2 linked regions of the Homo sapiens genome follow. The protein of the gene in region 1 purifies or fractionates together with the protein of each later gene. This does not show direct contact. Each region holds a gene or a part of one and is shown on either strand. Other genes may lie near its edges.

Evidence for each region. Proteins that work in one complex are often made in the same cells at the same time.
Region 2: the proteins of OXNAD1 (region 1) and PLPBP purify together in Homo sapiens (affinity purification with mass spectrometry; 2 studies listed by BioGRID and IntAct, with this or other methods). This does not show direct contact.

What each region holds. Positions count from the first base shown.
Region 1 is NC_000003.12:16,296,122-16,303,246, forward strand, and holds part of OXNAD1 (oxidoreductase NAD-binding domain-containing protein 1 isoform 2 precursor), read left to right. Parts: intron 1-536; exon of another isoform or gene 537-4,043; intron 4,044-5,055; exon of another isoform or gene 5,056-5,504; coding exon 5,505-5,747; intron 5,748-6,518; coding exon 6,519-6,627; intron 6,628-7,125.
Region 2 is NC_000008.11:37,765,645-37,772,644, reverse strand, and holds part of PLPBP (pyridoxal phosphate homeostasis protein), read right to left. Parts: intron 6,935-7,000; coding exon 6,899-6,934; intron 6,366-6,898; coding exon 6,290-6,365; intron 6,164-6,289; coding exon of another isoform or gene 6,111-6,163; exon of another isoform or gene 4,867-6,110; intron 1-4,866. UniProt on the Homo sapiens protein: Pyridoxal 5'-phosphate (PLP)-binding protein, which may be involved in intracellular homeostatic regulation of pyridoxal 5'-phosphate (PLP), the active form of vitamin B6.

The DNA.
Region 1 (7,125 bases):
AGGAGAGAAGGCACGCAAAGAATCACACAGGCAAATCATGTTTGTAGGAACTAATATGTCCTGTAGTAGCTGAAGAGAGCTTTTATGTTGTGAAAACCAGCTAGCTTAGGATACTCTCTGGCCCATCCCCCAATGTAGGACCCTCTTGCAAATAGTCCAAAAAAAAGCACAGTTCATTTCAATCCCATGAAAGAAATCAAAGAAGACATGAGTAAATAGAGAGATGTACTGTGTTCATAGATTGGAAAACTCAACATAGTAAAGAAGTCAGTTCTCCTTAAATTGATTTACAGATTTAACATAACAATAATCAAAATCTCAACAGGATTTTTTATAGATATGGACAAAGTGATTTTAAAATTTATATGGAACAAAAAAGGACCTAGGATAGCTAAAACAATTTTGAAAAAGAAGAATAAAGTGAGAAGAATCACCTTAATCAAATTTAAGATAAAGCTACAGCATTCAAAACAGTATGGTATTGGTGAAAGGAGAGAAACACATCAAATAATGTTACAGAATGAAGAGTTCAGAAATAGACTGACATATATGGTCACTTTATTTTTGACAAAGGTGGTAGATTCAATGGAAAAATTGAAAGGCAAAAGGATAAACTTTTCAACAAAAGTTCTGGAACAATTTTGCATCTAGATGCAAAAAACAAAAAAACGAAAAACCAAAAACCTTCAACCTAAACCTAAACCTCATACTTTATATTCAGAATTAACTCAAAACGGATTGTAGATCTAAATGTAAAACATGGTACTATAAAAGTTCTAGAAGAAAATGGGATATTTGGAACTTGAGGGTAGGTAAAATTCTTAAACACAATACCAAAAGCAAGATCCATCAAAAAAAAGGTTGATGATAGGACATGGTCAAAAGTAAAACTTTTTCTACAAAAGGCATTTAACACAATTTAAAAACAAGCTACAGACTAGGAGAAAATATTTACAAATCAGATATCTAACAAAGGGCTTGAATCTAGAATATATAAAGAAATCTCAAAAGTCAACAAAAAGAAACAAGCAACATGATTTTTTTAAATGGACAAAGGATTGAACAGACACTTCAGTAAAAAAGGATATGATGATGGCAAATAAGCAATGAAAGGTATTGAAACATCGTTAACCCTGAGGGAAATGTAAATTAAAACCATATGTGGTGGGATGCCACTACGATCTAGTCTAATGTCTAAAATTAAAAATATTGACAATACCAAGCGTTGGCAAGGATGTGGAGCAACTGGAACTCTCATATATTGCTTATATTGCTAGTGGGAATGCAAAATAGTACAGCCGATCTGGAAAGCATTTTAGCAGTTTTCTATAAAGTTAAACATACACCTAACATATGACCCAGCAATACCACTTCTGAGTGTCTTAGAGAAATGAAGGCTATGTTTATATAAAAGCATAACATGAATATTTATAGCAGTTCTATTCATAATTATTAAAAACTTCTAGAAACAACCCAAATGTCCCTCAGCAGGTGAATGGATAACTTGTGATATAGTCATACAAGGGACTATTAAAGAGATGAATTATTGATGCATGCAGCAATGTGGGTGAATCTCAGAGGCATTCTGTTGAGTGCAAGGAGGCAGTCCCAAAAGGTTACATACTGTAAAATCCCATTTTTGTCACATTCTGGAAGACAAAGATATAATGATGGGAAACCAGTGGTTGACTGGGGTTGAGATTACTGTAAAGGTAGGATCGATAGCACAGGGGAATATTTTCAGGGGGTGATGGAACTAATATATGTTTTGATTTTGATGATTGTTACCCAGATCTATATGTGTGTTAAAATTCATAGAACCGTATACCAAAAGAAAAAGATTTCTATTAAGGAAATTTTTAAAATAAGTTTTTAAAAATGTGCAGGAGCAACATAATATATTCTTGTGGTTTACACGTCAAGTTGTGTCTGTCCAGGATAACCCCCAGATGCCTGTGTAGGCATTTCCATTGTAAATGTATCCTGTCACATTTTTACCCTGCAACCTTCTGAGTCTCTCCGTCAGTGTGGCCTCAGCTGCCTCATTGCTTTTTGGAGTCTCTGGATTTTCCCCTCATTACTGGCTCTAGGTTGCTCCTAGAGGTGCTAAAATATGCTGCTGGGGTGAGAGCAACGAGGTATCTGCATGCCCCTTGCTCAGAGTTGAAATAAGCATAGCCATCCCAGTTCCTAGTGCCATGAACATCTCCCCATCCTCCCTGTTATCCTTAGCTTCTCACGCGACCTGGCCTGGTCCTGGTCCACAGCTTCCTGCTTGGTTTCATGCCTCATTGGCATTTCAGTGAAGAAACTTATTCTTACAGGCTGTAGAAAATCTCAAAGTGTTATTGCCTGAATGCACATCCTAATTGTAGTGCCTGCTCTACTCTGCCCAGTGGGAGTTGCAAACAGCCTTTATGAAGTCAGATTTTTCTTGGAATCATTTTCAGGTGGCTATTTTCCTCCTGAGGATTTGTCTTATTAAGCCATTCGAGTGGACAATGGAGGCACGTGAGTGTCTGGGTGGCAGCAGGCTGCACCGTTGAGACATGGAATAAAGTGCCATAAACGTCTTCCTTTATTTTATCTGCTTTGGCTCAAGCTCTTGGCAGGGTAAAGGGTTCTAGACAGCTATTGTGTGCTCAGCTCCAGTTGCTGTGGAAAGGTTGTTTATTTCACAAGTAGAAAATCTATACCAAAATTAGATACATTGCTGTGTAATTGAAGGTAATGTCCTTTTATTCACTTACATATTACAGTGTACAGTACTTTGAGTCTTGTGTTCGTGTTACCCTCGCAGTTTTTATTGATCAACAAAAAGACAAAGATGGCTTTTAATTCTTCCCGGATGCTACCAAATCAGAATACAGACCTACCGAAGATTATTTTGTCGTCAAGGATAAGACAGGCTTCTTGAATATTATCTTTCCCTGGGGCACATTTTCTTGCCAACTTTAGAGTTGAAAATACTCTGGTTTCTAAAAACAATAACCTAGAGGCTTTCTTTGTTGTCATTACTAAGCATGCCAAAGATGGCCACTGGAGAAAATTATTTCAGTCTCTTTCACTCTGATTCTTATAGATAAAGAGAGAACTGCACAGGCAAGCAAGAGAGGGAGGGAAGGAGGATATAGGAGATGAAATTCATTGTCATCGTTAGGCAGAGCCTCTTGTATCTTAAATTCTATTTTTGAGACTTGAAAGGAAAGAATATTTTAAAGCACTTTGGTAGCCACTGTAGCAGTTCCTAGATTTTAGTTATTCCTAACTGAATGCTCCCTTGCTGCTAATTTCTTTTGTCAAAAATGAAAACCCACTTATCACCATTCATGTAAAAATCTCCCACATATTTAAAATAGTGAGGTTCAGACATTTTTTCCCCTGAAAGAGTATCCATTCATTTAACAGTTCTTTACCAAAAAAGACATGTTTTTGTGAATTCAAATAATTTTCATTTTTCTTAGATCTTCTCTAAATTTAACTCAACTTTAACTTGCAGAGACCAAATTAAATTCATGTCCAGAAGTACCTACTGCTCACCTGACATGCAAGGTGCCAAGGTGTGAATGCTAAGGGTTTGGTTCTCAAAAAGCACGCGATGTGTTATTACTTCTTAGGAGGGCATTCATTTAGTTGATTTATGCCAGGAACGTGTAATGGGAGAAACCTATGCTCTTAATACAAGTTTCTTTATTCCTAGAATCTGTTTTTTAGTGACAGGGAAGAAGGAAGCTGGTATTGCCAGCACTTTTTCTTTTGTGACAGCTGCAATGACCAAAATTCCTTCTTATGTAGAGCCAGATACTCGGGAGTTCCACCCACTGTGAGTCAGTTCATGTTCACACCAACCCTGTGAGGTGGGCAGTGCAGGTGCTGGTACCCATTTTCCAGGGGTGGCAGATGAGGCTCAGAATTTAAGGGACTTGCTGGATTTCATAGGGGCTATGATTAAAATTCAGTCTTTTGACTCCTAGATCAGTGGTTTTTTTCCAAACAAGGGATTACCAACTCGGTCAGATCCAATGCTCCTTTCTAGAACTGTCCTGAAATGAAAGTCATAGTTAATGTAATGTACCCATAGGTTTTTTTTTAAATAACATAATTCTCTAACTAATACAAAGGAGAAATAAAAGAAAGTGATCCATAATCAAAGAGTATGTATTTTAAAATATAAATGGTTAGGCAGATCTAACTGGAAGATAGAATGAAGTAATCAGATGGCTATTCCTAAACATAGAATCACCGTGAATACACTGTCTACAAATGCAGATGATAAAGATGTGTTGTGTGGGTGACACATGTCACTAAGTGGAATGTGGTTTTCCAGAACAGTGAACATGCTTGGTTAAGTTCTGAACACAACAAAGTGTAATCTACACTGTGGCTACTGAGTTTATTTGTAAAATGAGCTAGAGTCTAGTCTCAGATCATTATAAACCAGTTTTCACCTACAAGAACGTCTTTTGGGCCATTCACAAGTCATTGTGCAGGACAGTCTTGTGCATTGTAGATAATGGTGTGCTGGCAAACCAGCTGTCTGAATTTATCTGAGTTGTATCATTTGCTGATTTCTGTGCTGTAAGTACTCCTACAATGGCTGATTTCAAACTACCAGTAGGAACTTTCTCACAAAATTCCTGTAGATTTGACCACCAGCTTAGTAGGAGCCAGCTCTGGGAAACCACGAATTTTGTAGGATCTCTAGCATCTCTGGCCCTGCCCTTTAAATGCCAGTTGGATTCCCCAAATCATTGTGACAATAAAAAATGTCATCACAAGTTTCCCAAACACCTTCATCAGAAGCAGTAGCACCCCCACTGAGAAAAACAGTACATTCAACTCTGATGGTATTACGGGCATAAGTGACCTCACCAAATAGGTGCTTTATCTAGATAGGTCTATGTGATACTCCCTAGTATGAAGCCTCTGGCTGCCTGTTCTTGTTTCTCTAGGGAGACAGGAACAGCACTGAACAGTACTACAGGGCTGGTCTAAGCCTGTAGAGCTGGTCTGGCTGTGCCTTACTGAGGATCAAGAAGGAGCACCAGTACTTACACTTTTCAGCCTTGATGAACCCAGGGCAGGCAGTCTAGTGACATTTGCCACATCCTGTTTCTCTCAGCTTTGGTTAGAACACAGGAACACAACTCAGATAAAGGAGACCCATACTTCAGAGCTGTACCCTGCCTTTGAGTCCATTGCCTCTTTCCTCAATCCAGTTCATCGCCTAAGAAGTTAACAAATGGTGAAATCACTGAAGCACATCTCCTTTTCTCAGTATTGGAATGGCTGTTCATTATGGATTACGAAGGTGGATTAGCCTGTGGCCTATAAAATGAGCAAGTGGAATCAATTCACAGGGCATCGGGAAAATTGGGAGCAAGCTATAAAAATAGTCTTAAATACTGATAATACAGGAGATAGACCCAGTTTTATTAAAGTAGAACATTTGGTTTAAGACCTTTGCTACAAAAGACTAAAAGGTCTTTTCTTTCCTGCCTTAGTGTACACTTGACTGTGAAGTGGCTGTGAGAGTGGGTGGAGAGTTCTTCTTTGACCCTCAGCCTGCGGATGCCTCTAGAAACCTCGTGTTGATTGCAGGAGGAGTCGGAATTAACCCTCTGCTTTCCATCCTGCGGCACGCAGCAGATCTCCTCAGAGAGCAGGCAAACAAAAGAAATGGATATGAGATAGGAACAATAAAACTATTCTACAGTGCAAAAAATACCAGCGAACTCCTGTTTAAGGTAAGGGAGGTATAGCTTGCTGTAAGCAAACTTGTGTAGTGGTATTAATTGTTCATGAAAGTTTTTTCTCTAGGTTTTGTTTTCTCTGCAAAGGTTCAAACAAAAGGCTTGGCAAGATTTAATCATGCTTAAATGAGAACTAACCAACACACCTTACCCAAGACAAGTAAAACTGCTAGTGTTGAAGAGGCTAGCAGTTAGGTGACAGGAAAGGGTAGGTTTTGGTGGGATGGAATCTGGAGGTTAAATGAACAGAAAAGTCACAAGGGTCCCGAGATTCCAGTCAAGAGACCTACAGTGGACTAGTGTATCACAGGAGTAGGTAAGACTTAGACAGTTTGGACCCAGCTGGGTAAATGAAACCCCTGTCAGTTGCATCTGTTTAAACTAAGTGCATTTGATGAAGAAAGCTTTCACTGGGGATTGCTTTGCAGCTGCAGGAATGAACAAAAGAACAGAAACAGTTAAAAGACACAACTGTGGTCAGTGAAACTGCTGCTTAATTGCCAATGCTTGAGAAAAAGGAAAAAGAAAAAACTCCCGGAGAGTTGGTAATATGCTTGTTAGCATATTCAGATTTCAATTAAAGCCAAATAGCCCTCTGTAGTCTGAATGCTCTGGCCTGCTAGGCTGCAAACAATATCTCTCTAAGTAGAGAGCGAGAGCGGCAGACGTGTGCAGAATGGGAGTTGAGGTTCAGCGTCAATGGTTGTGCACATCTGTTTTGATTTTTTAAAATTGTAGTGTGACCAAATATGTTTGACATTCCAGAAAAATATCCTTGATTTAGTAAATGAATTTCCTGAGAAGATTGCATGCAGTTTGCATGTTACAAAACAGACTACACAAATCAATGCGGAACTCAAGCCATACATCACGGGTGAGTCCCCTAAAGATATTTTGACTATCTCCATGCAGTTATTTGATGGACACACCAGTTGGTTGAGCGTAGATGCTTTATTGTTGGAAGCTGCTGGCTGGGAATGTCACTATCTGGGGAATTGGGATGATTCCTCATGGAAAAATGGATATTTAGTTGGGTTTACTCATTATATACAGGTTTCCTATTGCCTGTGTTAAAAGTGTACTTTTCACACTTTTTAAGAGGCCTTTGCATCATCACTGTAGTGTCCATACAAATAATTTATATTCCAGATTTGGCTGAATTGATTCCATTTGCCATTAATGGTCATTTAAACAACTCATAATTTCCTCTGAAAGGATTTTTATAAAACAGTTACTTCCTTTGCTGAAGGCAATTTGTATCTCCATCAAAGACCAGTAAGCTAGCTGGCCCTTTCTGCAGAGTGCATTACGATGAGCTTCCCACTTTGCTTGCTTAGGTTTAGGAAGCCTGGAGATGCACTCTGCTTGGGTC
Region 2 (7,000 bases), on another chromosome or scaffold:
CACAGTTAAATCTCAGTTCCTCTGAGAAGACAAATGTGACAGTTTTACTAGATACAAATTCAAATGTCAGACCATCCCTGGCTAATCAGCAAAGGTAAATAAGGGAAAAGCTGACATACATGATCAGGCAGCATATACATCCATAAGCTTCAAGAAGCTGGTAACGGACAGATTCCTAGTAAAAGGCTTGATCTATGTCTCAGTTCAAACTGAGAGAAACAGGTCAGGATGACAATGAAGAAAGGATGACCAGTGGAAGCCAAGATGCTTCCCTAGCATATCACCACAATTCTTCAACTTTCTGGGATGAGGGTATTCTTATCCAACAAGGACATCACCATGACCCTAACACTGGCCAGGTGTGGTGGCTCACACGTGTAATACCAGGTGGGTGGATCACCTGAGGTCAGGAGTTTGACACCAGCCTGGCCAACATGGTGAAACCCCATCTCTACTAAAAAACTGCAGCAATCCACAGGACAGATTATCACAGTTTACATAACTATTCCTCGTTAATGGATATTAGATTGTTTCTTATTTTTTATTACAAAAACAAAGCTTGGATATAGAACTTGGTGCTATGTACAAGTATTTCAGATGGGCAGTTTGCAAATATTTTCTCCCATTCTGAGTTGTCTCTTCACTTTGTTGTTTCCTTTGCTCTGCAAGAGCTTGTTTTCTTTTGGAGACAGAGTCTCGCTCTGTCGCCCAGGCTAGAGTGCAGTGGCACAATCTTGGCTCACTGCAACCTCTGCCTCCTGGGTTCAAGCTATTCTTCTGCCTCAGCCTCCCAAGTAGCTGAGATTACAGGCACCCACCACTACACCTCACTAATTTTTGTATTGTTGGTAGAGATGGGGTTTTGCCATGTTGGCCAGGCTGTTCTTGAACTCCTTACCTCGTGATCTGCTGGCCTTGGCCTCCCAAAGTGCTGGGATTACAGGCGTGAGCCACTGTGCCCAGCCTGCAAGAGCTTTTTAACTTGATGTGATCCCATTTGTCCATTTTTGCTTTGGTTGCCTGTGCTTTTGGAGTATTTACTCAAGCAATCTTTGTCAAGGTCAGGTGCAGTGGCTCACACCTGTAATCCCCACACTTTGGGAGGCTGAGGAGGGCAGATCACTTGAGGCCAGGAGTTCAAGACCAGCCTGTCCAACACAGTGAAACCCTGTCTCTACCAAAAAATAAAAAAATTAGCCAGAGATGGCTAGGCATTGTGGCTCACGCCTGTAATCCCAGCACTTGGGGAGGCCGAGGTGGTCGAATCACTTGAGGCCAGGAGTTTGAGATCCATTTGGCCAACATGGTGAAACCCTGTCTCTATTAAAAATACAAAAAAAATTAGCCAGGCCTGGTGGCACATGCCTGTAATCCCAGCTACTCGGGAGGCTGAGGTAGGAGAATTCCTTCAATCTGGGAGGCAGAGGTTGCAGTGAGCCGGGATCACGCCACTGCACTCCAGCCTGGGTGACAGAGCAAGACTAGAAAGACTAAAAAAGAAAGAAATATACATATATGTATTTGGCTTCAAGTGATCCTCCCACCTTGGCCTCCCAAAGTGTTGGGATTACTGGTGTGAGTCACTGCATCTGGCCTCAAGAAGCCTTTATGGAAATGAATTGAGCTGTGAGGTTGAATGAGTATAACGGATCATCCAGAAGGGAAAATGGCACTAAAACAACAGTTCTGTTAGGTTTTCCTGCCCCTTCTATGCCTGCTGGCTCCTTCCCCGCTCCCTCCTCCCATCACCTTTACATATTTCTAACATGGCTAGGTGCAGTGGCTCACACCTGCGATCCCAGCACCTTGGGAGGCTGAGGTGGGCGGATCACCTGAGGTCAGGAATTGGAGACCAGCCTGGCCAACATGGTGAAACCCCGTCTTTACCAAAAATACAAAAATTAGCCAGCATGGTGGGGCGTGCCTGTAATCCCAGCTACTTGGGAGGCTGAGGCAGGAGAATCGCTTGAACCCAGGAGATGGAGGTTGCAGTGAGCCGAGATCATGCCACTGCATTCCAGTCTGGGTGCAGAGTGAGACCCTGTCTCAAAACAAACAAACAAACAAACAAAATTTGTCCAGACTAATGTCTTGGAGAGTTTCCCCAATGTTTTCTTTTAGTAGTTTCAGGTCTTGGATTTAGATTTAAGTCTTTAATCTATTTTGATTTGATTTTTGTACATGGTGAGAGATAGGAGTCTAGTTTTATTCTTCTGCATATGGATATCTAGTTTTCCCAGCAGCACTTATTGAAGAGATTGTCCTTTTCCCAATGTATGTTCTTGGCACCTCTGTTAAAAATAAATTCTCTGTAGATGTACAAATTTATTTCTGAGTTCTCTATTCTGTTCCATTGGTCTATGTGTCTGTTTTTATGCTAGTTTTGGTTACTATAGCTCTACAGTATAATTTGAAGTCAGGTAATGTGATTCCTCCAGCTTTGTTTTTTGCTCAGGATGGCTTTGGCTATTATGGGTCTTTTGTGGTTCCATATAAATTTCAGGACTGTGTTTTTCTATTTCTGTGAAGAATGTCACTAGTATTCTGATAGGGACTGCACTGGATCTGTAGATTGCTTTGGGCAATAAGGACATTTTGACAATACTGATTTTTCCAATTCATGAGCATGGAATATCTTTCCATTTTTTCATGTCCTCTTCAAATTCTTGCATCAGTGTTTTACAGTTTTCATTGCAGAAATCTTTCACTTCTTTGGTGAAGTTTATTCTTAGGTATTTCATTTGTAGCTATTGTAAATGGGATTACTTTCCTGATTTCTTTTCCAGATCATTCACTGTTGGCATATAGAAATGCTACTGATTTTTGTATATTTATTTTGTATCCTGCAATGTTACTGAAGTTGTTTTTCAGTTATAATAGTTTTTTGGTGGAATCTTTATGTTTTTCCAAGACTCTACGGTTTTAGAATCTCCTGGTAAGACGAAGGAGTACTCATTTACTCACTCCCTCAAAACACTGGATCTTAGCAGTCTTTTTGATTTTTTACAAATCTGATTAGTGATTTTGTATTTCTCTGAGGATGAATATTTTTCATTTGATTACTGGCCTTTTGTATTTTTACCCCTTATAAATTGCCCCAGTTTTTGCCTATTTTTTTTCCCTATAAACAAAAAGATTTGTAGCTCTTTATGTATTCTGGATATGAATCTCTTCCCTCTTCAAAAATATTATTTTTCTTCCACTCTGTGCCTCCCTTTTGCTTTGACATGCAGAAAGCTTTAATTTTTGTGTGATCAAATCTGCTAGTTGTTCTTTTAAAATTTATTATTATTAATATTATTATTATTATTAGATAGGGTCTCCTCTGTCATCCAGGCTGGAGTGCAGTGGCACAATCACAGCTCACTGCAGGCTTAACCTTTTGGACTCAGGTGATCGTCCTACCTCAGCCTCCCAGGTAGCTGGGACCACAGACACACACCACTACGCCCAGCTAATTTTTTGTATTTTTAGTGGAGACAGGGTTTTGCCATGTTACCCAGGCTGGTCTTAAACTCTTGGGCTCAAGTGATCCACCTGCCTTGGCCTCCCAAAGTGCTAGATTTACAGGTGTGAGCCACTGTGCCTGGCCTAGTTGTTTTTTTTATGGTTTCCAGATTTTATGTCTTGCTTAGAAAAGCCCAAGAAAATAAAAATATTTTCCTGCATTTTATTCTAATACTTTTATAGCTTTTATTTTCAAGTTAGATTATTTAATCTAGCTGGAATTTACAACTCAATAATGAAAAGACAACTCAATTTAAAAAACATGCAGAGGACTGACTAGACATTTTTCCAAAGAAGACATAAAAATGGCCAATAAGCCCATGAAGAGATGCTCAACATCATTCGTTATTAATGAAAATCAAAACCGCCGGGCGTGGTGGCTCACGCCTGTAATCCCAGCACTTTGGGAGGCCAAGGCAGGCGGATCATGAGGTCTGGAGTTTGAGACCAGCCTAGCCAAGATGGTGAAACCGCATCTCTACTAAAAATACAAAAACATTAGCTGGGCGTGGTGGTGGGCGCCTGTAGTCCCAGCTACTCGGGAGGCTGAGGCAGAAGAATTGCTTGAACCTGGGAAGCGGAGGTTGCAGAAAGCTGAGATCGCACCACTGCACTCCAGCCCGGGCAACAGAGTGAGAATCCGTCTCAAAAAAAAAAAAAAAAAAAAAAAAAGAAAATCAAAACTGTAAGGAGATACCATTTCACATTTTTTGAGTCCAATATATCTCCTTTGTTGACTTATAAGCTATAACTCTTTATTGTGTTATTTTATTGGTTGCTTTGGGGTTTAACTTACAACAGTCCACCTTCAAGGTGTGTTACACTACTTCACACAGTTTAAGAACTTTACAATAGTGTACTTCTGTTTATCCCCTTCTGTTATTGTTGTCATGCATTTTGCTTTTACATAGTTATAAATCCCATAACACAGTTATTTTGTTTATATGACATATAATAAGATTAATAGAGACCCAGCCTTCAAGTAGGATTTATCCTAGGAGTGCAGGGTTGGTTTAACATTTGAAAATCAATAGGCCGGGCATGGTGGCTCATGCCTGCAATCCTAGCACTTTCGGAGGCTGAGGCGGGTGGATCACAAGGTCAGGAGTTCGAGACCAGCCTGGCCAATATGATGAAACCTTGTCTCTACTAAAAACGTAAAAAATTAGCCAGGTGTGGTGGCATGTGCCTGTAATCCTAGCTACTCGGAAGGCTGAGGCAGGAGAATCGCTTGAACTCGGGCGGTGGAGGTTGCAGTGAGCCGGGATCACGCCACTGCACTCCAGCTTGGGCGACAGAGCGAGACTCCATCTCAAAAAAAAAAAAAAAAAAAAAAAAGTAAATAAAAGATCAAGACAGTAAATTTTATGTTTGTTTTATTGCAGTTATAAAAAGTTAAACATAACACTTAACTTGTGATTCAGCCATTCTATTCCTATATATTTATTCCAAGAAAAAGGGAAATATATCCATACAAAGGCTCGTACACAAATATTCATAGCAACTTATTTGCAACAGTCAAAAATCAGAAGCAACCCAACATTCATCAACAGGTGAATGGATAAACAAATTGTAATATACTTATACAATGGAATACTACTGAATGATAAAAAGAATTGAACCTTTGATACAGGTATGAACATGATGAATCACTACACTGAATGAAAGAAGTCAGACAAAAAAGAGTACATACTTCATGATTCCCTTTGGATAAAACTCTAAAAAATGTAAACTCACGTACATTAACAGTGACAAAAGCAGGTAAGTGGTTCTTGAGGAAGAGAAGTGGGACAGGTAAGAGAGGGATTACCAAGGGACAGGAGGAAACTTTTAGGGGTGATAGATATGCTCACTGTTTGTTGTGATGGTTTCACAGGTGCAAACATACATCAAAACTCGTCGAATTCTATACTTTAAATATGTGCAATGTATTGTAAGTCACTTACCTCCCTAATAAAGCTGTTACAAAATATATACAGGTTATTTAAATTTTTATACCTTAAGGGAAATAAGTTCAGTTACTCAAGATCTCCATGTCTTTCTTAATTTTATTTTACTATGATTCTTGTTTTTTTTTTTTTTTTTTTTTTTGGGATGAAGTCTTGCTCTGTTACCTAGTCTGGAGTGCAGTGGCGTGATCTTGGATCACTGCAACCTCTGCCTCCCGGGTTCATGCGATTCTCCTGCGTCAGCCTCCTGTGTAGCTGGGACTTGACAGGCATGCACCACCACGCTCAGCTATTTTTTTGCATTTTTAATAGAGTTGGGGTTTCACCATGTTGGCCAGGCTGGTCTTGAACTCCTGACCTCAGGTGATCCGCCTGCCTCGGCCTCCCATGGTGCTGGGATTATAGGTGTCAGCCACCGCGCCTGGCCTACTTTACTATAATTCTTAATTTTACTTTACTATACTTACTTTACTGTATTGTATTTTATTTACTGTAGCCTTTTATTTAAAGGAAAAAGAACAGAAATGTCTCTTTTGCTAGTTAAAAAAATTTATGGGCTACAATTCTTTATAATTTTTCTGAAAGACCACCAAATAATAATAAACATGAGGTTGGGTAGGTTTCCAAGTATATATAACCCAGAAAATGGTGAATTCATTCTGTTCTTGGCATGATGTTTTCTCTTTTTATTAAGAACTCAGACTTTCCTAAAGAAATTCCAAAAACAAATGGTGAATTGGGGCTATTCTAAAAGTTGCTCTCTCTTCCACAAAGGGTAGTAGAAGCAATACAATGACAGAACAATTTTGTTTTCATATTTAATTTTATCTTACCCATCAATTTGTTGACATTTTGTTTCTGTAGGTGGCCAATGAAGTGCCATTTGATCTCAGGACACAAAGACAGAATCTGAGGGGAAAAAGGTAACCATGTGTAATTCAGATTTTATAGAGGCCTTGCTGGCTCAAACGCCTCGTGCACTCCCTGTCACCTTTCACATCCACTCTCTGTTCCTTAAATGTAATAAACTATCACAATCTTCACCCGGCCTCCTAATGAGGTAAAAGGATAGAGAAAAATCTAAGGCTTCTGTTCTGTTTTCCTTCCTTGTTCCCATCAATTCCCTCCATCTTTCAGATATTGCCCATCTAGGATGAACTGATTTAAGCTTTCAAATCTTGAAAAGATCCAAGATTACAGCAAGCTCCTGAAACCACCATTTCCAAACAGCCACCAATGAGAAAACGACAGTCTGAACAAAGAGAAAAATCTAGCTGAGAATTACTTGGGGCTCAAGGAGGAAGCTGACATTTCTATCCCTGGCCCAATCTAAAGTCAACCACCCTAAAACTGCTGTACAACTCAACCACCAGGATGGGTCTAATTTTCAACTAAAGAGCCAAGATTTAGATACAAATTAAAGAATTCAGCTATCTACTTACTTTGGGATTTGATGCTTTTTCTAGCAGTTCCTGAACCTAAAAGGTCAAAACAGAACAAGTCAGAAGCCTGGCAATCATGATGCTTCCAAAGGGCTTCAGGAA